Linked DNA regions of Homo sapiens: all the other regions are reported to be linked to region 1. The links are microRNA targets in miRTarBase. Many come from high-throughput screens and were not tested one by one. Region 1 holds a microRNA gene; each other region holds the end of a gene's coding sequence.
Evidence for each region. Region 1 holds the annotated microRNA hsa-miR-203a-3p (GUGAAAUGUUUAGGACCACUAG, at 3,822-3,843, opposite strand). A microRNA usually pairs through its seed, bases 2 to 8, with sites in the 3' UTR of a target mRNA and lowers its output. Matches are read on the target gene's strand: a 7mer-m8 pairs with bases 2 to 8, a 7mer-A1 pairs with bases 2 to 7 and ends in A, and an 8mer does both.

Region 2: miRTarBase lists IL24 as a target of hsa-miR-203a-3p. Seed matches in the 3' UTR shown: 8mer at 6,351-6,358, 7mer-A1 at 6,146-6,152 and 7mer-m8 at 5,796-5,802.
Region 3: miRTarBase lists ARPP19 as a target of hsa-miR-203a-3p. Seed matches in the 3' UTR shown: 7mer-A1 at 5,943-5,949, 7mer-A1 at 3,719-3,725, 7mer-m8 at 3,548-3,554 and 7mer-m8 at 1,624-1,630.

What each region holds. Positions count from the first base shown.
Region 1 is chr14:104,114,023-104,121,311 of GRCh38, reverse strand. It overlaps MIR203A (microRNA 203a), which reads right to left and starts at 3,907; the gene lies at 3,798-3,907. It overlaps ASPG (asparaginase), which reads right to left. Exons shown (of 16, transcript NM_001080464.3): 16 at 5,730-7,289. MIR203B (microRNA 203b) reads left to right here and starts at 3,809; the gene lies at 3,809-3,894.
Region 2 is chr1:206,902,468-206,909,467 of GRCh38, reverse strand. IL24 (interleukin 24) reads right to left here. Exons shown (of 7, transcript NM_006850.3): 7 at 5,329-6,492. The coding sequence ends at 6,409. It overlaps FCMR (Fc mu receptor), which reads left to right. Exons shown (of 8, transcript NM_005449.5): 7 at 1-6; 8 at 4,321-6,151. The coding sequence ends at 4,449. It also overlaps the pseudogene RPL13AP8. Among named protein-coding and RNA genes, the nearest start is that of IL24, 8.5 kb to the right of the region's middle. RefSeq lists an enhancer at 3,551-4,750.
Region 3 is chr15:52,545,533-52,552,821 of GRCh38, forward strand. ARPP19 (cAMP regulated phosphoprotein 19) reads right to left here. Exons shown (of 3, transcript NM_006628.6): 3 at 1,513-6,572. The coding sequence ends at 6,402. Among named protein-coding and RNA genes, the nearest start is that of ARPP19, 20 kb to the right of the region's middle. RefSeq lists an enhancer at 424-925.

The sequences.
Region 1 (7,289 bases):
GAACCACGGAAAGATACTCAGAAAGCCAGTCACAGTGACCCCACAGCCCTGTGACAGATGTGCTGTCCCATGGGGCTTATCTAGTCACCCAGGAAGGAGCCATCATCTGTCCTCCCTCTGATGATTCTCAACTGCAAATATGTTGCCATGGCTTGAGTGCTTGTGACCCTCCAAAATTCATGTTGAAACTTCATCCCCAGTGCAACAGGATGAAGAGCTGATGCCTTCAGCAGCTGAGGAGGCCATGAGTGCTCCACCCTCATGGGTAGGATTTGTGCCTTATAAAAGGGCATGAGGGGGCGAGTTTGCCCTTCCCATCCTTTCTGCTGTTCATCCCTTCTGTCGTGTGAGGACATGGTGTCCCTCCCCTCCAGAGCACCCACGCAAGGCACCAACTTGGAAGCAGAGACTGAGACCTCACAAGCTATTGAACCTGCCAGCACCTTGATCTTAGACTTCCAGCCTCCAGATCCGAAGAAATAAATTTCTCGTGGTTCCTTATAAATTATCCATCTCAGAGGTTTTGTTACAGCAGCACAAATGGCCTGAGACCTGCATATACAATTAGATTCCATGAGCCTCGAGTGGGCACCCCCAGACCCTGGCCTGGCAGGTTACCTGTTCAGCGGGCGCTATGGACTCCTCTGGGGAAGGACAGAGAGGCTAAGATGCAAATTCTACTCTAGGCTCCTGCTCCCAGGGAGTAGAGGCCAGGCACCACCCATAGCTGCAGATTCAGGACCTGTCTCCCCTTCCCCCAGCCTGTCTCTCTTCCTGAGGTCTCTCGCCTAAGACAGCTGCTGTCAGCCTTGGGCATTTATCAGGCTCGCCTGGGAACTTGGTGAAGACCCAGATCCCTGCCACCCATCCTACTCACTGAGCCTGGGCCTCTGCAGTGAGTCAGAACCCCTGCCTTCACATACTGGTTTAGCTACTTTAACAGAGACCAAAATAACACTGGCTTTAAAAGGCAGAAGGTTCCTTTCTCTTGTGGAAAAGACAAGCTGTTCAGCTGTCCAAGTGGGTAGGGCAGCGTGTACATGAGCTGGTCCCACGTAGGGTGATCAGCAGTCCCAGTTTGCCCCAGACTCAGAAGATTCCAAGAACGTTTCGGTGCCAAATCAGGAAACACGCAGGCACACCTGGACAGGTGGGTCGGCCTCATGCAGGGATGCTTTGCCCTGCCCCGGCGTGGCCCTCCAGCAGCACAGTCGGCACGTCTCAGCACCACAGTGCCCCAGTTCCACCCAGAAGTTGCATCTGCCTCTGTTCACACTCCCCTGTGTAGAGGTGGCATGTGTCTCCACCAGCAGCCCAGGAGCCCCACGTGCCCAGCTTCCCTTCAGGAATTCCATGGCTGAAGGAATGGACCCCGAGGAGCCATCCTCCACCTGGGTCAGGGGCAGAGGCTGGAGAGGCCGGAGTGGAGGGGCTGGGGTGCCAGGAAGCACAGGTCTAGTCTCAGCAAAGTAGGGGCCTGTCCTCCTGGTGTCCCCAGGGACCAAGTAGGGGCCTGTTGTAAGACCACACCTCATTGCCACCTGAGGCCTTCCATTGGTCCTCCGAGGCCCTGGCTGAAATTCGGCCTCTTCAAGGATCCCCCACTGGCCCTCCCACCACATCAGCTCCAGTGACAGCTTGAGCTCTGCCCTGCTGAGCACTCAGGAAGTGTGCTGCATCATGTCAGGGGAACCTCCAGCGAGCTCCACGTCATCCTACAGAAGGAAGAAACAGGTCCTCCGAGGGGATAAGGGACTTGCCAAGGTCACTTGCTTGTAGGCATAGAGCTGGGGTTTGAATGCACGACAGACTCTCGGTCCCCTGTGCCAGAGGCAGGGAGGGTGGAGGAAGGTGCCTCTGTCTCTTCAATCCCTCAACCCTCCCACCTTGCCCATTCTCCTGGCCAGGTCCCCAGGGCCAGCCTACAGGCTCCAGCGGGAATGAGTGGGAGCCAGCCAAGGGAGCAGTGTTGTGGTGAGTGGGGGGAGTGGGAGCAGGCTGGAGCCCCTGAAAGTGGGGCCCCTGGGAGCCAAGCCCTTTCCCCAGCCTGGCTCCTTGAGGCAGTGCAGCTCAAACCCGAGGGAGGGGGTCTGGCCCAGTGGCCCAGGGGAGGTCACTGCAACGAGAAAGCTGGTGGCAGAGGCTGGGGGCTTCCCTGGAGACCAAAGTGCCAGAGGCAGAGTTGAGGGAGGGTCTTGGGTAAGGACCAGGCCACTGCCCCTCCACCAACCATCCTCATTTCTGCTTCTCTGAGATTAGAAGGAAAAGGCTGGCTTGCTTTCAAGGGAGAAACCACGCTGAGGCCTGGGGGAAAAGGACAAGCACCCCAGGGACACAGCGATGCTTTGGAACATGTTTATTGTCATCAGTCTAAATTGTACAGACGCACACCGGACAGAATGCCTCCAAGCCGCAGAACAGGGACACAGCCGCCATCTCCCACCTGAGCCTCAGCCCCTCTCACGGGGCTGCTGAGGGCTGAGGGCCCATGCAGAGGGCACGGGGGAACGTGCTTGTAAAATGAAATGGCTACAGGGGGCTGCGGTGGTCAGCAGGCAGCAGCTGGGGAAGACACTCCAACCCCTCCGATGCCACAGACCCACTGGGCGCTCCCACGGCCCCAAGCTCTGAAGCCAGATCCTGAGAGGTGGCCACAATGGCATTTGCTGAGCAACAGAGGAGGCACTGGCCAGTGGTGGATGCTCTCCCGGGAACTCCACTCCCCCCACCTGGGTGGCCAGGGGACCTTGCTGTCCTGCTGCTGGCCCTCTTCTGGAACAGCCCTCCACAGTCACCTCCTGTCTCCTCACATCAACCCCCTATGTGTGCAGGTCGGGCTCAGAGAGGGCAGGTGACTGGCCCAAGGCCACCCTAGCAGGCCTCAAACCCAGGCCTGTCTGACCCATCTCCCAGGACTCCCCGCAGCTCTCTAAACACTGGGTGAGGAGGTGGGGACTGGAGGGGGACCCTCCACCCCAGAGGACACAGCAGGCCAGGCAGCACCAGGCAGAAGACCCCGGCCCCTGGCTGGAGGTGGGGACAGATTCGACCCTTTGCTGAGTCCCTCCCAGGGCCGCCCGGGGCTTCACACGCAGATTGACGCGCACACCTCTCCTGTGGGCGCTAGCTACCACGAGGTTCCAGGGAGGCTCCGGCGAAGGCACCTGTCATCATGGGCGCCGCTTCTCCTCTACCTGGGTGTAGTCTGCAAACTTCCTCCCCACCCCCAGTTCCTGTGCCTCGAGGTCCTTCACGAGTTTAGCGCGCACTCGTAGGAGCCGCGCAGCGCTCCCTAAGGCCTCAGTGAGTGGAGACGCTCCGGGGAGCCGGCAGCGGGAACCATCGGCCGCCCAGCAGGGTGCGGCTGCCGGCAGCCTGATGGGCAGCTCCCAGGAAGCCCAGGGCAAGGAGCGCTCCTCAACCCTACGGGCCCACCGCCAGTTCCTCGCTGGGAATTCCACGGAGTTTCGAGGTGCGGGCCCTCGGGGTGCAAGAGGGCGGCGGCGGCGTCTCCAGGCCGGCAGCGCGCCAGGAGCGTGGGCAACCCAGCGCGCCCCCACCCAGCGGTTCCCACAGCACAGCCCGGCCACGCCCGGCCACCTCCCAGCAGCACTTGGCTCTCCGGCCGAGGGTCTTCCCTGGCAGCAGGTGGAGCCAGCCAGGCCCTGGGGACTGCGGGGCGCGGCGCATGGGGCGGCCGACCTGGAGCGCGGAGCCGGTCCGTGGGCTCCCCTGGATTGGTCGCCGGCGCACCCCTGACTGTGACTCTGACTCCAGGCCGCGCGTGGGACGCTCCGTCGCTGTCGCCGCGCCCGCCGGGTCTAGTGGTCCTAAACATTTCACAATTGCGCTACAGAACTGTTGAACTGTTAAGAACCACTGGACCCAGCGCGCGAGTCCCCAACACCGTCGGTTCGCCGAGCTGCGGAGAGAGGAGCCCCCGACGCCCTTGGGACCGCCCGCGTCGCCTGCGGATCCCGGGGACCGGCCCCTGCGCCCAGATCCCCGCTGGTCGCGCACCCCCTGCCCTGCTGCAGCCACCCGGCCCCGACGCCGTACCGGACGCCTTAGACGCCCTCGCCTGGCGCTGGGGGATCCCAGCCGCCAAGCCCAGCCCCGCCGCGTCCTCGCTGGCCCCGGCGTCCCCTCGTCCCGCGGGCCCCGCGTGGCAGGGCGGCTGAGCTCCGAGCGGCGGTGGCCAGCGCGGCGGCGCCTTTTATGCGGCGCAGCCGCCCTTCCCGGCGCCGGAATGTGCCCGCGCCGCGCTGGCCCGACCGGTTTTTCCGGGCGGGGCGGCTCCCGGGCCCATAGGTCCCGCGACTGATCCTCCACGGCCCGGGGACCTGCTCCGCGCGCCCGCGCGGGGGTGGCCCTGACTCAGCGGCCGCCCCGCCCCATCCGGCGCCCCAGCCTCCAGCGCCTGGCCTGGGCGCACCTGGCCTCCCGGGTTCTGGGTCCCCGCCGGGCCACGCCCGAACCGTCTCGTCTGGGCCGGGGGTGCTCGGGCGCACGGAGGGCCCGGGGCTCCACCTTGGCCGGGTCGAGGCCCAGGGTGGCCGGAACAGGTGAGGACCAGCGCCCGACAGGAGCCCAGGGCCGCGCTAGCTCTCCGGTGGGTGTGGGGGCTGGGCTGGACACACCCACCCCAGCCCCTCTCACTTCAAAGGGAACTTCGTGGGAGGGGGAAGGGGAGGGGTAAAGAGAAAGTGAAACTGGAGGGAGGGAGGTTTCTGCTTCTCAGACCCTGAACCCCCACCCCGCAGCCCACAGGGGTAGCCCCGTACCTGCCTCCTCATTTCCCACGCGGGGGGAGGGACGCCCTACCCCCTCACGCAGCAAGGGCCTGAGCCTCGCTCCCCCCACTCACAGCCCAGCCCCGAACGTCCTGGCGCAGCTGGCCCTGCCGGTCCTACCCACTTAGTCACCTGGAGGTGTCCAGGCCTGACCAGTGGCGCCTCCCAGGGACTCTGCTTCAGCAGAACATGGCAGCTGAGGGGAGGGCTCAGGCTCTAGGAAATACCCTAGAGCCCCCTTCAGCACTTGCCCCAAGTCTGGAGCCATTAGTGTGTCTGTATGGGGTTGGGCAGCAGGGTGGTGACCATTCATTCCAGTGCAGGGCGGTGACACGCCATCCCACCACCCGCCCAGCCAGCCAGGAGCCAAGTGCTCAGGAGCCAAGGTGAGCCCCAGACCAGAACACAGCCACCAGATCTGAGGGACCCCCCAGACATTTCCACATGGGCCGCGTGTGGCTCAACCACCGCAGCCACCCTGGAAAGGGAATCAGAAAGGTTTTGTTATTTTCATTTTGCAGTTGGGGAAACTGAGGCTCAGGGAGGGACAGTGACTTCTGGGGATTGCACAGCTCTTGGTGGTAGAGAAGGGATGACAGGCCTTGCCATCGCTGCATCTGTGGGTCTCAGTGCCTGGGTGTGGAGTCCGAGGGGCTGCGGCATGGGGGTGGGGATGGAAGTGGGCATAGGGGAGCTTGAGATCAAGAACAGGAGCTTGGGAGCTCCTCCCCCAACACAACTGCATGGGCAAGAAGAACCCACCTCTCTTCTTTTCTTTTTTTTTTTCTTTTTTTTTGAGACCTAGTCTTGCTGTGTTGCCCAGGCTGGAGTGCAGTGGTGCGATCTTGGCTCGCTGCAACCTCCATCTTCCCAGTTCAAGCGATTCTCCCACCTCAGCCTCCCAAGTAGCTGGGACCACAGACACAAACCACCACACCTGGCTAATGTTTTTATTTATTTTTTAAGAGACAGAGTTTCGCCATGTTGGCTGTTCTCAAACTCCTAGGCTCAAGCTATCCACCCGCCTCGGCCTCCCAAAGTGCTGGGATTGCAGGTGTGAGCCACCAAGCCTGGCCACCACTCCTTAATTCTAAGTTCTGGTCTAGCCCAGTCCTGGGCAGACTCTTCCCGACGCACAGCCACTTGGATGGGCTCCCCTCGCCCAGGTGGCTCCCGTGTCCAGCATCCAAGGGAACTGACGAGAGAGGACGGGGAGAAGGTGACAAGTACAAGCACCTGCAGTTCCCACCAGCAGCAGGAAATATTGAGGTGTGACCAGAAGGGGAACTTCCTAGCATACACGAGAAATCTGGTTACCTCCAGCTGGGGAAGGGCGGTCCTGGAGGGCCCTCAGCTGAGGAGTCTGATTTTAGGATAGAAAATGCTGGTGAAAAAGACAGTAGTCGTGATGGAGAGGAGATGTTCCCCAGAGATAGCCCTGGGATCCAGGTGATTCGAGATGGGCTATAGGAACCAAGGCCTCCCCCAGCGTGAAATTACCAGGTGTGAGCGGCGCCACCCCACTGTGGGGAGGCGGGTCCCACGGGCACTGGGCACCTGGCTGTGCCTCATTCCTGAGTCTCCCACAGCCTCACACCACAGCAAGAGACAAGGCGGCCCTGATTCACAGCCCAGCTCTGCCCTGTGCCAACGCAGAGCCCTGGGCGCAGGACGGGGCCACTCTGTGCCTTAGCTTCCTCAGCCATGAAGTAGGATAGACGGGGACCCGGTGCCCTCCTACAGGCACAGTGGGGACGAAACACACCAACGCGGCGCAGGACACGAACGCTCCAAGCCTGTCTGTCCCGGCTGTTCCCACTGCACGCCAGAGAGCCAGAGGCCTTGGGGCCAGGTCACTGCCCAGCTCAGAGCCCAGGGAGCCCCGAGCAGTGGCCCTGCACCTCCTGCCACTTCTGGGTGATTCTAGAGGAGTCCCCTTACCCAGGGCCCCTCTGGCCTCTCCCCAAGGGGCACAAAACGGCCCCCGAGAAAGCTCCCAGACTCAAGCCTATGACTCTTCACAGCCTCCTGAGACACTGGCCCAGTCCCGGGGCTCCCTGTGGTAGGGCCCTACATCCCACGAGGGTTTGGAGGGGACTGACAATGGGGGTCTGGCTGCCCAGCCTTGTGAGGAGCTCTCCCCATCTGCCCAGCCCGTGGCCCCCAAGCCGTCTCTGCCGAACTCCATCAGTGACCCAGTTGGAGAAAGGCCAGCTTGACAAATGCTCTCTGCGGGACAAGCAGGATGAGTGGGCGTTTCTACACTACAGGACACTCACCCCCGGCATCAGTCGGTGTGTCTACACTGGCAGGTTGGCACCTGCTCTGGGAGGGTGCTGCCATGTGGGCTAACGTGAGCCACCTGCAGCTTTCACAACCCGGAGCAGCACTGAGTGGGGTGGCGTGAGCAACAGGCTCTGCCCAGCCCCTCAGGAGCTGAGGGAAGCAGGTGGGCACTGCCGTGTGCAGGAGCAACCGGGGAGACCAGGTGGGCTC
Region 2 (7,000 bases), not on the chromosome of region 1:
CTGCAGGTAAGCTCCGCTCCTGCCCTGATTGGCAGCCGCGGCCCGACTGGGCGGCCCCAGCCCTGGGCGGGGACCCGAGTGTGGCTTCCCGCGCCGCCGCCGCCGCGATCCGGAGAGCGGGTTTCCCAGCAGCTCCTGGGCCCTGAGCCGAGGAACAAGTTGTTTTAGTTTCCTCCTTGTTTGGTGTCAGGAGGTTGAATACCGGGAACTGTAGAAGACCTGGTTCCGTGGCTTCTAGCCAAGCAGTTGTCACGGGATACCTGCGTGCTGGATGCAGCTGGCTTAGCAGAGAATGATAGGTGGCAGCTCCACAGTTATGTGAAAGGCTTTCTCGTGGAGGAGATTAGATTTCTAGGGGGTCCTAGGGAGGTGGAAGCTACCTAGACAGTTCACCTTCCTGTGCGCGAGAACTTTCTAGTAAACTCTCGAAGATGAGAGGAGGTAATTTACCTTTCTCTGGAGGCGGTTAAGCTTGGCTAGAGGATGACTTGGGAGAGATGTAGACAGGGTTCAACACCTTGAGTGAGGAGGATTCATCTTTAAATCTAGAGTGGATGGAGGGAACTCGCGTTTCCACTCAGGGCCACTGATGGTTGGGTAGAAAGCCTTTATCCGTTCATCTTTAAGAATTGAGATGAGAAAGCTTTTTATTCTCTAAAGCAGCCTACAGTGTCCAAAACACGCAGAGCCCAGAATAAAGCTTTTTTTAAAAGGGTGTGGTAAAAATCCCTGTTTTTTTTTTCTTTAAAAATAATTTATTTGATCCTGATTACAAAATACAGGTGAGGAGCACAGGCAATTCCTGTAACCCCTTGGTCGCACATCTTCCCAGTCTATGGTTCTATAAATACCCTTTGTACAACAGCAAGCTCATGTTGTCCCCAAGCGCTTGCACATTCTAACAGCTGCAGAGCTATATTACCAGGTGGAAAGTTAAACAGACGCCCCACTCACAAGGTAGGGCCCCTCCAATTAGTCTTCCGACTCCTTTTTGCTAATAGTAACTGGTTGCTCTTCCTATTGGTCATAGATAAATTACACCTGCACAATTCCCTGAGTGCTTTCAAGTAACCTCAGAAAGCAGTGACTAAGACCCTTTCCTTGCTCCCAGCTTCCTATGTCCCAGGCTGCCTGTGGCACCCGGACTGCTGCTGCCCCTGGGTCCCGCACATTCCAGGGCGACGATGGAGGAAGGGCAGGCCAGGCCAAGCATGAGGAATTAACAGTCTTTATTGGGCTCAGACCAGGAGCCCGTGGGTCTTGAGGACCTCTGTGTATTTGTCAGTTTTCTTCTCCACGTTCTTCTCGGCCCGTTTCCGTAGCCTCATGAGCTGTTTCTTCTTCCTGTAGTGGAACTTGGCCTTCTCCTTCCACTTCTCCTCCAGGGTGGTTATCACTGCCTGGTACTTCCAGCCACCATCGTGAGCCAGGCGCTCCAGATAGGCAAACTTTCTTGTAAGCTTCAGACGCACGACCTTGAGGGCAGCAGGAACCACCATCCGCTTTTTCTTGTCGTAGGGCAGTAGGATGCCGTCAAACACCTTGAGGTGGTCCAGGGCGGCCTGGCCTCACTTGGTCTCTTGGGGCAGCAAGCCTCGTACTTGTGCCACAAGATGCGGCTGGGGGCCGGGAAGTGGTAGGGACCTCGGGAAGGGTTGGTGTTCATCCGCTTGCGGGGGAAAGCCAGGTACTTCAACTTGTTTCTGTAGAAATTGCCAGAAATGTTGATGCCCTCCCAGCGTACGACAACCACCTTCCAGCCCAGCAGTACCTAGTTAGCCACGATGGCCGCCAGGGGGCCCAGGAGATGGCCTCCACCATCAAGCACCAGGACCTGCACCCCCGCCATCTTCGGCAGCCGCCTGGGAAAAGAAAATCCCTTGTTTAATTCGCATGTAGACTAAGCTAATGCAGCAGACTCCAAAAGACAGGGCCCACACGGTGGAAGCCTACTTCCCCCTCCCCAAATAAAGGCTCAGACAGGGACAGGAAGAGGTGGCCTGAGCCAGTGAGCCAAGAGGTCATCTCGGGACTGAAATTCCCTCTGTCTGGTTGCTGCGCCATCCTCTGGAGTCTTGCCAGCTCCATGGTCAGTACACAGGCACCAGGACCGTGTGCACGTCCCAGCTTACAGGAGGGAGGAAGAGAATGCTGCTTCTTAAGCCCATGACCCTGACGTTTCCCACCATTTCCACTTGCATCCTAGAGGCTGAAACTTAACCATGTAGTGAACCTCCCTTCAAGGCAGGCTGAGAAATTTAATCCCCAGCTGGTCAATCGTGGGCCTGGCTACAAAGAAGAGAGTGGTACCCAGCAACAAGAGGCAGTTCTGCGCAGTCCCCACCCCGCCCCCACCCCCCCCCCACCCCCCCACCCCCCCACCCCCCGGCTTCTCCGGCTTGCCCTTCCCCACCCCCGCTAGAGAAGGTTCACACCCGCGTGGCAGTGTTCAGCAGTCTGAACATAGTAGGCATTCAGTAAGTACTCATTGAAAGGAATTTTGATATATTTTGTACTTTACTAAAGAGGGAAGCAGCAGCAGCTTGCTTCGAAAATATGTGCACAAGGTCCTGGTACCTGAATACTGACCATTGACTCCAGAGGATGGTGCAGCAACCAGGAGGGACAACAGGCGCCACACTGTCTGTCTACTCCGTCTTTCCAGCAGCCCTTTTCTCTAAAACTGCCCTGTGACCACACAGACCCTCACCTGGGCCTGCACCTTGTTCCAAGCTGACCCTGCCTCTCTACTTGAAACTCTCATTCCCACTATTAGGGGCAAAAATCTTGATGGAACAAATTTACAAAAAGGTGCCTATGCTTAATGACTCATTATTATAGCTTCCATGGGGAGCATTTCCATTTCTTAAGCCAAATAAGTTAATCTCAAATGATGAACTATAACAGGCAGTGAAAGACAAATTTTTGTTTTTTAGCAAATCTAAAACCATCTCTATTTCAGACAAAGAAAGTTAATTAAAACATAATAGAAGATAGTGTGAAAAACTAACAAAGGACTTGCTCACTTTTTTCAAAGTTCGTTTAATTTAACAAAAACAAAATCATGTCATACATCGAGGATTTCCTCTGCCTCATCCTCTTCCCCATCCTCAGCCTCATCTTCTTCCCGTCCTCAGTCTCTTCTTTGGCCTCTAAAGGAAGCTCAGGTATTACCACCTTCCTTCCCACCCTGGAAATTTTATCTTGATCATCTCTCATTTCTCTGTGTCACCTCCAACTTTGTGTATCGTTTCTCCTATTGTTATGTGCTGGTTAATTTGCTTCGGGTTGACATCTTGAGCTGTTCTGGGATCCAGGTCTTTCTTGACTGGTCTTATATCATCTAAGTGGAGTGCTACCAACATGTGCTTATTAGCTGTCTTTCACTGATTACTTGACTGAGTTTCATCCTCACTGACATTTATACCAGGACCATGTAATTTTGTTGCTTAGTTTTCTTTGCTCTCACTGTTACTTTTCTTTTCAACCTTCTCTCTTTTTTTCTTTTCTGTTTTGTGGCTTCTTACTTCCTTGACTGATGGAAAACATGTTTTCAAAGCAAGCTGCTGCTGCTTCCCTCTTTAGTAAAGTACAAAATATATAAAAGTTCCTTTCAATGAGTACTTCCTGAATGCCTACTATATTCAGGCTGCTGGACGTCTAATTCTCAGAGCTTGTGTTTAAATACATAACTGTCCCCCTTGTGGCCTTCCTCAGTGGATGAGATAGTAACTGTGCCATGTTGGGGTCACTGGCACAGTCCTGTCTTTTGAGAACTGACTGTCCTCAAGGTGGATGATCCTGAAGTTTCTGTCTGGGGAAGAGGAGCACCAGTGTTCCATGTGGGCTGCCATCTTATCCCCTTCACCATCCATCCCCCTTCCTGGAATGCACTGTCACGACGCCACATCACAGCATCTCTGAGCCCTTACAGAGGTGCTGAGGGTGACTCACTCTACTTCTGAATAACTCCCTAAGAAGATGCATATTTATGCCATAAGTCACAGCATCTTATCCCCGAGGGGATACTCCTCTGGCAGCTGGGTCTCTTTCAGGCCCATGCTTAGCCACATGATTTTACTCTGAGCCCCATTTAAGGCATTTCCTGCCCACATTAGGTTTTCCAGTTATCTCAGGTGAGACACTACCCTGAAAATCCCCAGGGCTACTCCACTTGATGGAGCTGAGCCATCTCTGTGTCTTTGCCTTCTGGAACTCAGCAGCCATGTCCATGCCCCATTGCCCACTATGAAAATCCACCTGGGGAGATATTAAAATCACCCTACCCAGATCCAGTGATGCTTCTTTCATTGTCCCCAGGTGTCTGAATCTCCCTGGCTCCATGCCCCATCTCTGAAGACCAGCTGTGAATACGTGAGCCTCTACCACCAGCCTGCCGCCATGATGGAGGACAGTGATTCAGATGACTACATCAATGTTCCTGCCTGACAACTCCCCAGCTATCCCCCAACCCCAGGCTCGGACTGTGGTGCCAAGGAGTCTCATCTATCTGCTGATGTCCAATACCTGCTTCATGTGTTCTCAGAGCCCTCATCACTTCCCATGCCCCATCTCGACTCCCATCCCCATCTATCTGTGCCCTGAGCATGGCTCTGCCCCCAGGTCGTCTTGCACACCTTGGCAGCCCCCTGTAGTTGACAGGTAAGCTGTAGGCATGTAGAGCAATTGTCCCAATGCCACTTGCTTCCTTTCCAAGCCGTCGAACAGACTGTGGGATTTGCAGAGTGTTTCTTCCATGTCTTTGACCACAGGGTTGTTGCTGCCCAGGCTCTAGATCACATGGCATCAGGCTGGGGCAGAGGCATAGCTATTGTCTCGGGCATCCTTCCCAGGGTTGGGTCTTACACAAATAGAAGGCTCTTGCTCTGAGTTATGTGACATGCCTCAGCCCCATGGACTAAGCAGGGGTCTGGTATAAAAACACTCCTGGAAACGCCTTTGCCCTGATCCAAATGTTAGCACTTGCTAGTGAACGTCTACTTATCTCAAGTTCTATGCTAAAGGCAATTTATCTTGATGTGATGATAAACCAAACTTATTAGCAAGATATGCATATATATCCATAAATTCTCTTTACTCTGTCTCCATCACTTGATGCACATAAGTGCCCTGACCTCAGCATCTCCCCTCTAAAAAAAAAAAAAAAAAAGTATCTCTTTATCTTTCTTCCATAGCCTGACACTGATATTTGTGCACTTACCTTAACTTTGGTCTATTTTATTCATCCAAAACCATTACATTTCTTGGTTTTCACAAATGTTCCCCATTTCTTAGCCAGTTCCAGACAATGTATAGCAAGCAGGGGAAGGAAAGCAGTCAGGAGTTCCTGGGTGGCCACGGCTCTGCAATAGCACTTATGTCATGGAAGTGATATCCCACCTCCTACATATACTCTTTGCCTAGGTTTTTGGAACAAGGTTATAGTCAGACACTGTATCTTTAGATTGATGTCGACCACAAAGTTCAGCCAGAGCTTGAGGCTAGATGCACAGCCTTGCTATTGGGAAGAAGGCCTTTTCTAGCTGTACAACACAGTCTCACTGGGCATTCATCCAGAAATAGAGAAGAAAGTCTGCCAGACTTGAGTTATGTTGTCTTTTATTAGCAGGGAATGTCATCACAGATTGGATAGTACATCCAGGTGCAATGTCACCATCAGCAAGGTCAGCTTGACACTCAAGTGGAAGATTAGGGAAGAATGACTAGGATAAAAAAAAAAGGAGGGCACCAAGGGAAAGGGATGATGGGGTGAGCTGGCGAGTGTGGGTGGGAAATGAAATGTTTATTGAGGATCTGCTTTGTGCTGGGCACTTTAATCCACATTTTATCGTTTACTTTTCAAACAGATGCACCTTACCCCCACCCCAATGCTCTGTCCCTGCAGATATCAGAAGACAGTGTGATTTTCATGCTCTGAAGTTCAGTTTTACATCCAAGCATCCCTCTCTGTTTTTTAACAATCCAAAGACAGGCCAAAAAAAGCACCACAGTTTATTAAGTACTTACTAAGCACCCATCCACTGCCCCACACTGTGGCAAGGATTGTGAGGGGTAAAGAAGCATGGGGCACAATATTCTGCTGCCTTCATGTAACTTACAGTCTCACAAATAAATAGAACTTCAGTTGAAATACTGACATTAATTAAATAGAGTTGTAATAAATACAAGAATCTTCTCTGTAGACTCTTCACAGCATCCAGAGGCACCTTCCCTGACTGTCACTGGCGCTGCTTAAAGAATGACTTCTTTGACAATAATCCTGGGCCAAGAATGGGACCCATGGCCAAGGGCGTGAAGTGTCCAGTGAACAGCATAGGAAGGGAGACTGTTTGAAATGACACAGGGAACAAACCAGTGCCAGGGGGAGGGAGGTCCTGGTCTAGACATTCAGAGCTTGTAGAATTTCTGCATCCAGGTCAGAAGAATGTCCACTTCCCCAAGGGCTTTGGTCAGAGCTGCTTCTACGTCCAACTAAAGGGAAAAGAGGGTTGAAGGTCAGCCATGTTAGCTATGAGAATAGTCTTTCTTCCAACCTGCCATGCCTAAAATAGACCTGACTCCAATCCAAGGGATGGGTCACCTTTGGGATGAGCCCACTGATGAACCCACCTGCCTGTCACTTTTCCTCCATCTACATGTGTTTATCTGCTTCAGGGGTGAGGACAAACAGGCTAGTGAATATCAGTGGACAAAGAACAAGGGAAAGACATATGGCACCCCTAACAACAGCAACCACAAACTGCAGTATGGGATGGATATGGCCCACCACCTGAATCCACTGCACAGGTGAAATGAGCCCAGGTGGCCCCTCTCCATCAGATGTTATTGCTCTTCACCATTTATTTAAAAGCTGATGCATCTCTTCCTCAAAAAAAAAAAAGTGATCGAAATCATTTATGTTTTTAGGGGGGCTGGGGATGAAATTTGGGTTTTCTTTGTTGTCATAATTTTGGAAAAGCAAAAATAATTTCCCATAATT
Region 3 (7,289 bases), not on the chromosome of region 1:
ACTTGCTTTATTAATTGGTGCTCCAATGCTGAGTATGTTTAGAACTGTTATATCCTGATAAAATTGATCCTTTTATCATTAAATAATATGCTTCTCTCCTTACCGTTTTTGACTTAAAATCTGTTTAATCTAAGTATAGCTATTCCTGCATGCTTTTGGTCTCCGTTTGCATGGAAAAATCTTTTCCCATCCCTTTACTTTCAGTCTTATATGTGTCGTTACAAGTGAGATTAGTTCCTTGTAGGCAGCATACAGTTGGGTCATGATTTTGAATCCATTCAGCCACTTTACCTCTTTTAACTGGAAAGCTGTAATCCATTTACAAGATTATTATTGATATGTGAGGGCTTATTTCTGTGATTTTATTATTTCTGGTTGTTCTGTATATCACGAGCTGGTGTTGGCAGTTGCTGCAAGGGGCTGGGTTGGGCCAGTCCCCAGGCCTAGTGGTGGCATATTAGGTGGGTGCCCACTGTGGTGGTAGCAGCAGGTTCAACAGGACTGACATCAGGCCCCCAGGAGTCCTCAGAAGTCAACAATGGTGGACTGAGCTGGGTAATCCCCAGGCCCCTGGATGGCATGCTTGGACACAGGATGTGGAGCCAGACTGAGTGGACCTGTTCTCAAGCCTTCTAGTGGTGTGTGCAGGTGCTGACTGTGGCAGGCAGGGGAAGGGTGATCCTCAGGCTTATAGCAGGATGCTTGTGGTGGCGGTGGCAGGGCAGTGGCTACACTGCAGCTCTGACACTGTGGAGGGCAAGGTTGTTTTCAGTTGCAGCAGCCACACCCAGGAGGCTGTGAGCCTGTGCTTCACTCGTCCATTGGCCCTGGTTACAGCAGCCTGCAGTCAGACCACCACAGGTAGGGGAGTTTGTCCTTGGGGCACATGAAAATGCATGGCAGCTTTACTACTGGGGCAGCAAGGTCTTTGCCAATGGCTGGGCACTTCAGCCCTGTAGGTAGCAGCCAGCTGTGATGGTGGCTATTGGTGGTGAACATCAATGAGGTTCTAGAGATGTGGAGATGCAAGGGCTGTAGGGCCTCTGGGCAGGATGCAGTTTGCAGGGCTAAGCTCTCAATATGGTGCCTTGCTGCAGCTGCTTAGGGCTTTGGGTGGGGGGACGGCATAAGCTCCGTCTCTGGAGCAGTATCTTTTGTGGTCTCCAGGCAGCTCCCTATGTTAGTCTTGGGGTCTGCGAGGGTCTAAAGGCTGTCCTGTGGCTGGGATGCAGGAGTCTGTGGTGAGAATGTGGACTTCTGGCAATCACTCATTTAATCTTTCCAGGCCCCCAGAAGATCCTGGCCAAGTAGGCTGCCTTGCTTCCCTCTCCTACCTTAACTGTTTCCTGTCCTTTTTCTGTTTAATTCCTGAGTTCTCTCTTGAATGATCTAGTTGAGGTGTTATCTCCTCACTATTGTGGCTCTTTGTAGAGAAGCTGAGTACCAGATGTCTCTAGTCAGCCATGTTGAAGCCCCTCCTCTGTAATGTTTCACAAATAAGATGAAAAAGACTCACAATCTGCAAACATTTAATCCTACCTTAAGTACAAAGCCTTTACAAATGCAAAAAAAAAAAAAAAATCAAAGATTACAAGTCAGTTTCTTCCTGCATACAGTAATAGCTGAAATGTAAAGAGATCAACTTCAGAAAAAATACACTGAAAAACATACCACTTTAATAAGACAAAACTGCAAATTAAATCAATAGAAATTAGGTAGATCCATTTATTTTTTAAATACAAGTATAATTTTGGAAGGGGTATTTGACAAATTCAGCATTAACTGCCAACTCTATAGACATGTTTTAACAAAAAGCAAAACAAAACAAAACAAAAAAACAAAACAAGGCATTTACTCTTGGCCCTTTCAGTACAGGCGAAGTGTTCTATTGCATCACAAGTGCTAGTGATGCAGTAACAGATCCAAGGGCATAATATTAAATATGTTTTTTTCCAACTGCGATTTAGTTGAAAAATAACATAATACAAACATATATTAATGGCTATCAAGACCAGCAGTGATCTGCAGAATACCTAGAGGCCTACCTAATTAGAAGGTTGAAACTTAGTAAAACCGTATTAAAGTCAGTGTTTTTATTCTTAGATTAACAATGACAGAGTGAGATATCTTTGATTACAATTTTATAAGGTGTGGTGGGGAATTGAGAGGAGACAGATATTGGGGAAGACTGGCAGTGTGTGCTGAGTTAGAGTTGGGAATGTGGCTCAAATTAGTCAATATTGATTAGGATATTGTTTTAGAAAATTTTAAATGTGTCCTAAATTGTGGCATATTGAAAACGATATTAAGGAACAATGACTCATTAGCCCTAAATACAATTTAATGAGTGCCATCAATGGGCTTAAGAAATAAGCAGGGATGGGGGATAGAGAGGCAAAATGAGGTGAAAGAGAAAATGGAAAGTGGAAAATATGTTTGAACATTGGAGAATGTGAAAAGGCCACCAAACTGCTTTAGTTATCACTCAGAAGTGCTCTTCCCATTGGCTACCTGCTTCTGATCACCCAAACACCAATTTTAGAGCAGAGGAGCAGTAATCCCCTTTATCTGCAATTTCACTTTCTGTAGTTTGTTACCTGAGGCAACCTTGGTCCAAAAATATTATGTGGAAAATTCCAGAAATAAACAATTCATGTTTTAAATCATAAGCCGGCCGGGCATGGTGGCACATGCCTATAATCCCAGCACTTTGGGAGGCCGAGGCGAGTGGATCACCTGAGGTCAGGAGTTCGAGACCAGCCTGGCCAACATGGTGAAACCCCATCTCTACTAAAAGTACAAAAATTGGCTGGGCATGGTGGCGGACGCCTGTAATCCCAGCTACTTGGGAGGCTGAGGCAGGAGAACTGCTTGAACCCAGGAGGCAGAGGTTGCAGTGAGCCAAGATCGCACCACTGCACTCCAGCCTGGGCAAGAGTGAGACTCCATCTCAAAAAAAAAAAAGAATAAAATAAAATAAATCACAAGCCATCCTGAGTGATGAAATCTCATGATCTCCTGCTCTGTCCTGCCTGGGATGTGAATCACCCCTTTGTCCTGCTTATCCACACTGTATACTACCTGCCCCTTAGTCACTTAGTAGCCGCCTTGGTTGTCAGACTGAAAAAACATAGTTGATAAAGGGTTCAGTACTATCTGAGGTTTCAGGCATCCACTAGGGGTCTTGGAATGTATCTCTTACAGATAAGGGGAGACTACTGTATTACATTTCAGCTTCCATAAAACTTTACTAATTTGGATTAAGAACACAAGCCTGATTTAGTAAAAAGTATCCATAAATATTCAGAGGTATAGTTTTGTTTCATCAAGTAAAAAGAGCAACTAATTCCAACTGTTGAAGTAGTAACAAGTAAAGGCTTCACCAGGCTTTCCTTGATGAATAGTTAAGACATATTTTTAGGTCATCAGCACAAGATTATTGAATAACTTGTATGCTACAAACATGCCGCTTCCACTCATCGAAACAAGCCAATAATCCTTACTATTCCAACTTGCTGAGAACCATGTCAGATGCTGCGTTCAAGAATGAAATGTTCCTCAAAACTGTTCTATCAAATGTAGTAGCTATTGGACATAAAACAAGTAATTTATTTCAGACTTTAGTTTTCATGAAGTATTTATCAACAACTTCAATTTATTCCAACATTAATTTATGATAGGACAGTTATTAAAATTAACCATTTCTGAGACTGTAACTTTGAAATTGTAAGAAATGGACAATTAAGCTCACTAGTCAAAATCTTGATTCAAGTGATGATCCAATAGCTTACAAATGTCTTCAATAAACTGAGCTTTGAGGCAGAACAAAAAAAAAACAAAAATCTAAAACCTCTCTATCCCAAGCACCAATAATGGAGGCTAAGCAATTATACCTACAAATCCTTAACGACAGGTCTCTCCTAATGAAAAATCCTGAGATTTAAGCACTGTGACTTACAGAAGGCAGGTTGGCTTAATGAGGAAATTTACTTTTAATAAAAAGACAATCAGCAATATTTTATTTTGGGCACTTAGCATTTCACAGATCCTCAATACATTTTGAGGTAGGTCAAATATTAATTATGTATTTTACAAACAAAACTCAAGCAGTTGTTTTATTACTTGTCCCAAACCACAGGAGCAGTTCTATCGTGGTCAGGAATAACATGGTCTCTGATCTTTCAGATTAATCTTTCATGTGTGAATTTAATGGTAATTACTTGCAAATATTCATGAAAAAAACCAAGACTAGATATAGAAATTCTACTCTGGGTTATTTTAAACTTCTTAAATTGATTCTATAATGAGTATATACTTGCTCTCATTACAAATATATATATATAACTGATCTTTACATTACAAATGACCACAGCAGTGACTGTGTTGCTTTTCTGCCTTTTGGGGTGAGTAGATCAGGAAGATAATCAGCAAGCTTTCCTCAGAGCACTAGGCAGCCTTTAACTTAAGGTGCTATGTTTGAGGCACCATTGACTATGATTTGGGGTCATAGGAGAGCAGGTATACTGATGGAACCAGGATTCAGAAAAGATGCCTGGATCCAAAAACGGGAGGCTCTCTGCAAGTCAAAGATGAAGAGAAAAATAGTAGCATCTCAAGCTACTGATCCTGAGTATCATGCTACAGCATTACAACTACTTGTGAGAGGAGCTCCTACAAGAGCAGTAAACTTGTCCCAGTAAAGTCTGCTAAGTTCTAACTAGATAAGCCACAAGTAAAACTAAATTGGTATTTTACTAAAGTGACATCTACAGAAGCAAACATCTAAACATTTTTAATAGGAGTTTTACCTGTCATGTAAATTACTCTAATTGTCACAAGCCTAATTCAATTAGCTTGTCATAATTCCTAAAATAATTTACCAAAATTCAGCTCATCTTGACATAGGTTCTTGAGCCAGTATTCCGAACCGTTTCATTATAAAGTTCCTTTTATTTAAACAATTGTAGAATATTAGTAATAATAAAGGATCAAGAATAGTTAACTTGAGCCTAGGAGTAAGGTTGCAGTGAGCTGTGATTGCACTACTGCACTAGAGCTCAGGTGACAGAGCAAGGCCCTATCCTAAAAAAAAAAGAGAAAGAAGTTAACAACTGAGAAATTAGAAGGAAAACGCCATTATTGTGTTATATAAAAGAGTAAGGATATAGACACCTATGCTTCCATATACAACAAACAGCTCAATACCATTTGAGTCAAAGAACAAAGGGGAAAAAAAAGCAGGTGGCAGAGGGCATGGAATGCAGAGTATTGAAGCCTTTTATTCTAGGGTCTCCAAAACTGAGTGTGGAAGTAAAAAGTTTCTACATTTAAAAAGTTTATATAAATTACATGAATTGCAACTTTCATAAAAATCAAAATGAAAGGTTCTGCATAGGACAAAAGATATGCCTAAGCAACATATCGTATTTGCACAAGGCCACTGAATGTCATGGATATTAGTAACAAATGAAAAGCTTAAGTCTATGGCAGATTGAACTAAGATTTCAGTTTGGTATTCTATAAGCCCGAGATTGTAAACTACTCTTATTATACAAAAGCTATAATGATTTACAGAGTTTTGTGTAGGAACTCTTGTGCTTCTGGTTGGCACATTATCTACTTTTTAAGTATGTGAAATTAATACAGACATTTGTGAGAGGTTGTGCAAAACTACTGTATTTACAAAAATGGCACAAAAGTGAATTCAACAGTTAATGCACATGCATACTTCATTCACATCTTCAACAACAAAAGGTATTCTAACTCTACAGAACTGAATATTAGCTTCAACGGCAGCTGTTAAGCACTAGAGTCACATAAGTTACACCAGAATGGGCAAATATTGCCCAAGTAAAATTCTACTGTTAAAGCTGAAACAGGTTTAAGGCCATTCAAGTTCAAGCACAGAGATACAAATCTTTCAGAGCCCCATCTAGTTGTGTTTGAAATATGTGACCTTTCTTCTAACTTGTGGTCTTAAACTTCTGTTTTACAAAATCCAAAAGGTAAATACAGAAGAAATCAATACAATAGAGATTATATTAAATAAGAGTAACATACAAAGCTATAATTAAGATGAAGTAATGAAAGCCAAAACATTAAAATTTTAAAACTTGCTTGTTACTTGTTAGAACCAGTACTACACTAGAAGTTAGGTAATATATACAACTATTTTCAAGTAGTTTACTTATGTTGCTCTAACATGTCCTCTTCACCAGTGCACTGTTAAACTAATCAAAAACTCTACACACGTATATTCCACAATAGCAGCACACACTACTGCTACCTGCAAAGCTGTCAGTCTCAAATGACTAGTGAATGAAAGGAAATAAAAAGTAGATAAGTAACATATTAAGGAGAAATAATGAGATTTAGCAGATTCATGCAGTTCAGCCTCTTAATCAGCCAGCCAGCTTGCTAGCAACAAGGGACGGCTTCCGTTGAGGAAGGTCTTGCGGAGTGGGAATGTGGTCACCAGTGACCTCCGTCTTATCCGGAGCTGCAGTAGGAAGTTGCTTGTTCTTCATTTTTGCTTTAGCCATGTTGTAATCCCCAGAATCAAAATATTTTTGCTATAAGTAAAAACAAAAAAAATTCAGATTAGAGCTTAGCAATTACTGATTTAAGATGTCGATGCAACCCCATACTGTCCGTATAAGGTTGGTCTAAAAGAATTTAAACAGGAATATTAATTAGATGAAATAGTCTCTGTACTGAGTTCCAGCATAAGTCAACAGCCGAGAAGCCCCCCTTCAGACTGGGCACAGTGGCTCACTCTTGAAATCCCAACACTTTGGGAGGCCAAGGCAGGCGAAACACTTAAGGTCAGGAGTTCCAGGCCAGCCTGGCCAATATGGCGAAACCCTGTCTCTACTAAAAAAAAACAAAAAAAACAAAAAACAAACATTAGCTGGGTGTGGTGGTGCACATCTGTAACTCCAGCTACTCCAGAGGTTGAGGCTTAAGAGTCATGTGAACCTGGGAGGTGGAGGCTGCAGTGAGCCAAGATTGCCCCACTGCACTCCAGCCTGGGCAACAGAGACTGTCTCACAAAAAAAAAAAAAAAAAAAAAAAAAAGAACCTGCCTTCAGGCTTTCTTGAACCATTCTGGTTCTAATAAAGAACCATCAAGACTAATATAATATTAAGCTATTTGGGAAGTCCCAGACTCAGTGAAATAAAATCTTTCATTTACTAATGGAACAACCAGGTGAAACACTTGCTTAAATTATTTTATAAATAAAACACATAATTTGGCTGGGCATGGTGGCTCATGCCTGTAATCCCAG